Homo sapiens: one gene and its partner. The protein of the gene in region 2 interacts with the protein of the main gene of each other region in a pairwise test. Each region holds a gene or a part of one and is shown on either strand. Other genes may lie near its edges.

Evidence for each region. Proteins that work in one complex are often made in the same cells at the same time.
Region 1: the proteins of DNAJB6 (region 2) and KIAA0825 interact in binary tests that used the Homo sapiens proteins (3 or more experiments, as listed by UniProt).

What each region holds. Positions count from the first base shown.
Region 1 is NC_000005.10:94,616,726-94,620,471, forward strand, and holds the start of KIAA0825 (uncharacterized protein KIAA0825), read right to left. Parts: upstream 1,880-3,746; 5' UTR 1,775-1,879; intron 1,594-1,774; exon of another isoform or gene 1,506-1,593; intron 1,401-1,505; exon of another isoform or gene 1,167-1,400; intron 1-1,166.
Region 2 is NC_000007.14:157,413,125-157,416,870, reverse strand, and holds part of DNAJB6 (dnaJ homolog subfamily B member 6), read right to left. Parts: exon of another isoform or gene 2,184-3,746; intron 856-2,183; coding exon 773-855; 3' UTR 1-772. UniProt on the Homo sapiens protein: Has a stimulatory effect on the ATPase activity of HSP70 in a dose-dependent and time-dependent manner and hence acts as a co-chaperone of HSP70. Plays an indispensable role in the organization of KRT8/KRT18 filaments.

The DNA of each region.
Region 1 (3,746 bases), on a different chromosome or scaffold from region 2:
AACTGGCCAAGGATAAAGGCACTAAAGAAACTGCATTATTTAGATGTCAAAATTACCTTATGGTGATGAACACATCCCTTAAGTCCCTTTTATCCTCAAGTTTTGCTATCCACTTGATTTCTAAATGTGACATACTATCTATCCATTTTTACCTGGAGTGAAAATAATGATACTGTTATGTTTACTTATAAAGGTATAGAGCACAGTAAAAAGAGCCAAAATTTAGAGTCAGGTAGACTGGATTCAAATTTTAATTGTGCCATTTAATTGTATAATTTATGGAAAATCACAACCTCTTTGGGTCTCAGTATAAAATGTTTTGCAAAATAGAAATAATACAATTTTTGTGATTTTCTTTTTTTATTAAACATTAAATAAAATAATAAATGTAAAGTGCCTGGCAGACAGTATCTACTTGGGGTAAGTATTAATGATTGGCTACATTCAAGAGCAATTCAAAGAGAGAAATCACTGCCTCTAAAAACTAGTTGCTGTACAGATATAATACATAATATCCCTGAAGTAATTTATAATACTTTCAACTGGAGAAATAAAGAAAAAATACAAGATTCAACAAAATGTCAAGATTGGGATTAATGGGGCGATTATAAGTTTGTTGAATTATTAACCAACAAGGCCAGAAAATCAATGTGCTGTCCTAAATATGGTTTGTTGCATTACTCTCAAAAGGTTAAGAAGACACTGGCCTGGTGTTAACAGGGGCCTTGAATTGAACATATTGCATTTTTCTTTATCGGTATGCTCCGATAAAGAAAATGTTTTTATGGGTATGAGGAGCATACCCATAAAAAAAATGCAATAGTACCTACAACTCTTTCGGGAACTGACTGTTTTGAAAAAATAACAGTCAGCTGCCTTTTACGGGGGTTGGTGGGGAGGTAATTATCTAAATATAAGGTGGCAAGTGAAAACTAGTTACCTAAGAAATTGCATTACTTAAGAGAAGTCGCCAAGGTTCACTACATCACATCTTTCAAATCTTAAATGAGCACCTTTCCTCACATTATCCCTTTGTCGGAAGCAATTTCTCTTTACAACTATTCTGGCTACCTCAGACCTCCATCCAAAATTCTCCTGAATCCTTCATTATCGACAAAGCCTGGAGCAGAACGCAAGCATTCCTTTCTGAAAGCACACATACTTACTGATCACTGCTTTCCAAAAATGCATCTAATGCCCAAGCATGAAATTACAAGCTTGTTCTCTTATGTCTCAGCCATGAAAACAAAGACCGTTCTTCTCATCCAATTCAAATGGCGGGAGGAACCTTCAATTAATTCTAAATCAGGAAGGAACCTCCCCATCTCACTTCCTAAATGTTTGTAAAAGATGTCTTCTTCAGCCAACCTCCTGCCTTCCAGGCACGGCACCCCAGAACTACGGAAACAGTACTCAGGAATCAAGAGTGGCCAAACGCTGCCAATGGGAGATAGGAAACTCGTTGATCATTGGTAGAGAAACTCGGCACAACGCCGAGTCACGGTACACGGTGTCTTCGGCCTCGCCCAGGGACACTTGGTGACCCGAGGTCGAGTTCCAAGTCGGAGACAGATTTTGCGAGTGGATAAGACGGTAAGCCGGGATCCCAGGGCCTTCTCCAGCTGCACTGGGTGTCAAGCGCCACGGGGTTTGATGGGGACTCCTTCTGGTTCCACCCTCGCCCACTCACTTCTCGGGCTGGCCATAATGCTGCACAGAGCCCCGGCCAGCCATTAATATCAGGCGCAGGAGAAAACCCAGTAAAATCACTTACCAGTCTTCCACCTCCGGTGCTGATCTAGCAAGAGCCTGACCCGCTGGCCAGACTCAAGCTCTGCACCAGGTATTACCACCCTGGCGACGGCTCCGGAGCGTCACTGACAACCACCCGGAAATGGTACTATCGCTTCCGGGGCTGCCTAGCGCGCGGCGGGAAATTGTTTCCCAGAGCCCGGATTCGTGAAGCAGTTGAGTGCTGCAGCGGCAGTCGTCGCCCCTGCCGCCGCTGCCACCGAAGGAAGCATCCCAGACACCGGGAAGGTAAAGGGGCTCAGCTAGGAAGACACAGTGTATTCTGTCTCTGTGGGGATGTTTCTTCGCCGGGCGGTACCTCCGAAGTTTCTGCCTCCCGGCTGTGAGGCTAGGAAGGAAGCGGCTGGGGTGAGCGGCAGCGGTGTCTGGCTCTCGCGCTTTCTCCAGCTGCAGTTCGTTCCAGCTCTCCCGACTTCGCGCTCGGCGCCGGAGTTGGTGGGCTGCAGCTGCAGACCCCGCGACGCTTCGCCCGTGCCGCTGCGGGGACTGCCACCGAGCGCCCCTCTGCAGTACTGGGCTGAGCCACTTCCCCCGCTTCTGCTTGCGCAGCTCTGCCGCTCGGCCCGCCGCCTGGAAGGCGCTAGGCCCCCCGCGTCTCTCGTTTCCATAGAACCCATGGGGACGCCTCATCCTGATACCAGAATTTTGGCTGCTTTCCATAACTTAGCGTCTGCGAAGGTGGCTGGGATACCCCAGGCCCACTTTCCTGTGACGAAGAAAATTGTGTCATTCTTTCCTCTCTAGTAGAATTTTTTTTTTTTAAACTGCTAAAACGGCAGTGATCCTATCTCTGACTGCTATAGGCCTTTAAACACAAACATACACACATACACTTTTCGCTGAAGGGAGGGTCTGTGTTCCTGGGGTTTATATTTCAGCTGCCTGAAGGCTGGAAACAAGACTGAGTGGCTATTTTAAGATTTCTTCCACTTCCAAAGCCTCAGATTAAATATTGACAAAAAAAAAATTGGTCCGTCTCGGGTACTTCATATCATTATTTGACTCAGGAGTTAGATGGAGCTTGATTTTGGAGGCGCCAGCCTCTTTTTTGACGAATGACTTTATTAAAAAATTTTGTTGTTGTTGTTGAAATATTGGGAATGAACATTTGAACTGAATTTACAATGTATGTGTGACAGACAATGCACCTTGTGGACTTTTTGGTTTATGTTATTCCGTTGTGCCTCAATTCTTGGAAATACCTGTGGATGTGCAAGATGTTCTCATTATTGGAAAGTTTGATTACGTATATTGCAGGTGTTCAATACCTAAGTTGCTAGTATGAGGTGAATTTATATTAAAGAGTATATTTCTTTATTTTCTTTTCTTACCTTTCCTTCCTTCCTTTGCTTTCTTTCTTTCTTTGACAGAGCCTTGCTCTGTTGCCCAGGCTGGAGTGCAGTGCCTATCGGCTCACTGCAACCTCCGGCTCCCAGGTTCAAGCAATTCTCCTATCTCAGCCTCCCGAGTAGCTGGGATTACAGGTGCGCGACACCACGCCCGACTAATGTTTTGTATTTTTAATAGAGACAGGGTTTCACCATGCTGTCCAGGCTGGTCTCGAACTCCTGATCTCAAGTGTTCCGCTCGCCTCGGCCTCCCAAAGTGCTGGGATTACAGGCGTGAGCCACCGGGTAACTCTTGAGTATTCTTAATTTAAAGGAACTAGGATGTTCAAATACTTGAATGTTTAAGTCAATTTTATTGTAAAGACAGCGAACCTTCAGTACTGCAAATAAACCCCTATTCTGTTTTCTAAATCCAGATTTTATTATGCGTTATTAAGTAAAATTGAATTATATAACCTAACATTTTCTTGCTTCCCTAAAGCATAAAGCGTGGATCACGTGAAAGTCATTGAAAAGATGATCAAATGTGGTTACTTTTCATAATCAAAATTCAGAACTGAAGATTTCGTAATAAGCATCCACATT
Region 2 (3,746 bases):
CTGGGTGTTTTGCGCGTGTGTAAATACCGGCCCGTTTTCCCCAGCATGGCCCTAACCCATGGACACTAGGGAGAGTGCCACTGAGCAAAAATTTTTTGCTAAAAATAATTAGCAAAAATCCAAGAAAAAAATATGGAATCTAGCAAAACCTACACCATATTTGAAGTTGAATTTGCACTACCTGCAAAGGATGAAAATTAAAAGAGTAAACAGAAGGAATGATTTTACATCTGATGTGATTCACGACAGCCTTCTATTCGTGTGGCCGGATTGCTCTGAGGAAAAGGTGCCCTGACGGGCAGGATTCAATGTGTCACTTGCAATATTCTCTAAGTTACACTCTACTGAATTACCTTCTAATTCCAAACACTACGCCGCCACAGAAAGCCTCATTTCATGAATGTTACTCAGTTAGCCATCTGCGCCCTCCTGTACTTCTAAAGCCAGAAATATTCCAGCAGCATGCGGAGTGGTTGAGTAGCCGAAAAGAATGAAGAGGATCCGGAAGCACTAGAGGAAAATGCAGCAGATTGAGAGCTGGAGAGAAGCAGAGAGTCGCGGCCAAGTCCCAAACGTCTGTCCCCGCCACCCGTGCCGTCAGCCCCGTCTCCTGACCCTGCTCTGACTGATCCGTGATCGCATAATCCTGCCGAGCGAGTGTGGCCTCGAGACAGTCCTGACCGACGCTGCTACCTAGCGCGTGTGCACGACCGCATGCCGAGCACGGTGGAGCGCCAGCGTCTGGGGGTGCACCGCGTGCCTCAAGTCCGGTCTAGTGATTGCCTTTGGTCGACTTCTTCTTCTTCGACTCCTCTCTCTGCTTCTGCTTCTTCCTCTTGCCACCTTCTTTCAATCCTAAGGAAACACGGCTTGTAAAACACTGTACGGAACAGCACTGCTTCCCCAGCAAGAGCCAAACATGTTTTCTAAATATCTCCCCATGTTAAGAACAAAAAGCAACAAAATGAAGTCATCTATCTTGGCCACAGCTAAACCTCAAAACGGGCGCTTTCCAAGGTGCACGTTGAGAACTGCTCACACTACCCAGAGAGCTTCACCACCCTGCAGAGAAGTGAGGACTCCCACCTACCCGAGTTCCGCCCAGCGGCAGAGCTAAAAGCCCACCCTGGGACTACCCCAGTTCTGCCCAGCGGCAGAGCTAGAAGCCCACCCTGGGCACGGCTGCACCTCAGTCCTGGAACCCCACCCTGGGACCTACCCCAGTTCCGCCCAGCGGCAGAGCTAGAAGCCCACCCTGGACACGGCTGCACCTCAGTCCCGGAACCCCACCCTGGGCTCTCCTTCAGAACGCACACTGGGCCTGCGCAAAGGTGTGCCCACCTGTGGGGAGGGTGTCCACAGGTGTCTCCTCCGCTTCCCCCGCTGGCCACAGTGCAGCCTTTCTGCAGGCAAAGCCTTGGTGTGGACTGGCCTCATGTTTGCCAGCTCTGTGCCATCCAGCGTGAGAAAGTCCCATTTCTTATTGAGGAAAGTCTTTCATTTCCCTGTTGCTAAAGTCAATGGCTGACACTGACTGATCCAGCTGAAGTGCATGGAGAAAGACGCCCACCCTCTGAACGTCTGATCCAACGTGCCAGAAATAAACACCTCTGGATTCATTTCTGCAGAAACTGTCTTGAACTCAGTGTGTGCCAACGTGGGTGCAGGAAACAGGCCCGATGTTGAATTTGGCCACAATTGTCAACATGACTGGGCAGAGGGAACATGGCCGGCAGCAGGCAGGGCAGGCCTGGGTCCCACACGCACAGGCCCTCAACCTGCCAGAACTCTCCAAAGACCCACACAACTTCACATGGTGGCATCGTGCCTCACAGGAAGGTGCCTGCTCACAGCCCTCTTGGGGGCCTGAGGCCCTGCCCACACTCAGGACTCGCCCCAGAGAATCACAATCATGGTAGGCCGGGTGCCAGGCTCCAATCAGATGCATTCCACACCCAGCTGACGGCCGCCACGCTGACCAACATGTCACAGGTGCAAGTCCACTGAGTGTGGCTCACACATGTCCTGGACCACAGTGGGGCAAACACATGTGGACTTTCAAATGTGCTGTGGCTCTCACCACTGAGCACTGCCTGGACCCCGACAGCTCTCCACGAGAGAGGGACAAGCCTGCAGATCCAGTCCACACCCCACCCACAACCACACCACACCACACTCGCCTGTGACCCGTGCACAGTGGAGGCTGCCACCTTCCTCGCCAGAGGAGCGCGTCCTAACCGCCCTACAGGAGCAGCACGAGATGCGCGTTCAGAACCGCCAAGCGTTCCATGCTGCATATTTAGGAAATGTGCCTCAAGCTACGGTTACGGAAAGAAAGAACGAACAGAGAGAGGCCTGTGTGCCGTTGGCGGCTGCAGAGGCCGCTGAGTACCTGCTTCCAAAGCAGGGAGGCGGCTCTGCGGAAAACGCAGAGGAAAGGAAGCGGGAGGAAGCCAGGAGATCTCCGTCCCGAGGAGCATGCGGGGAGCCGCCGTGACTGTGGAGGGCGGCCAGGGCAGAGCCAGCTCTTGGAGGCCGTGTCCCTCAGAGGAGCCTCGTGCCCCGGGACCCAAGGGACCCCGTGGGATGGGGGCGGGGTGGGGGGGTCAGCACCGCCTGCGGTTCCTCCGCTTCAGCAAAGCAAACTTTACCAAGACCCCAGAACAAAGGGAGTAACGGAGCTCCTTTAAAGCAACTGCTGCCACTGGGCCTTTATGAGCTAGGGACGGAAAGCCTGAGGTGACCACACTGCAGTCGCCCTCACCCGCCCTGGGGCTGCCGGGATGGTGGGGGAGGGGCGGGTCCGGTACAAGGAAACCACTTTCCGGTGTTCTTCAAGCCTCCACTATTGCCGGGCGCGGTGGCTCCCGCCTGTAATCCCAGCACTTTGGGAGGCTGAAGCGGGGGGATCACCTGAGGTCAGGAGTTCGAGAGCAGCCAGTCCAACATGGAGAAACCACATCTCTACTAAAAATACAAAAATGAGCCAGAAGTGGTGGCAAGCACCTGTAGTTCCGGCCACTGGGGAGGTGAGGCAGGAAAATCGCTGGAACCCTTGAGGCAGAGGTTGCAGTGAGCCGAGATCACGCCACTGCACTCCAGCCTGGGCGACAGAGCGAGACTGTCTCAAAAAAAAAAAAAAAAAAAAAAAAGTCCAAAATTGAAGTGAGAAAAACAGAGCAGGCCTTCCTGTCACCTGAACCTCCTGCAAATCACAGACATGGCCTTGGGCACCGGCTCGCGGGCTCTGGGACTTCGTGGGACCGCCAGCCTTGGGCACAGTCCACAGAGGCACGCTCTCCCACCAGTGACTACTTAAAAACTTGTCCTGATAGAAAACGACTTAAGTTTTCTTATCAAGTTTAAGGACTTGAAAACCCTTAAGTATAAATACACAAATTAGTTTCATTAAAAAGACAAACTTCGAGCTGTTGAAAGCTGAGGGCAGGGTTAGATTCCCATCTTCAGTTCCGAGAGCTCCATGCTGTGCTTCACAAAAAGGGAGACATTCTACAGCGTTCCAGGGCAGGCTGCTTTCCTCAGCCAAAAAAACAAAGGACCTGCTTTATTCTTTCTTTCCTGTTCAGTAATTTTACTTTTCCTTTTTTAACAGTTACGTGTTCTTGATACTCCTACAGTATGTGTGGAATTCACAAACACAAAACATCACTCGGCCTTTCCAAAGCCTGAGTGAGGATCCGGTGGGTTCCCGGTGGTGCCTCTGTCCTCTGAACGCAGGCAGGGCG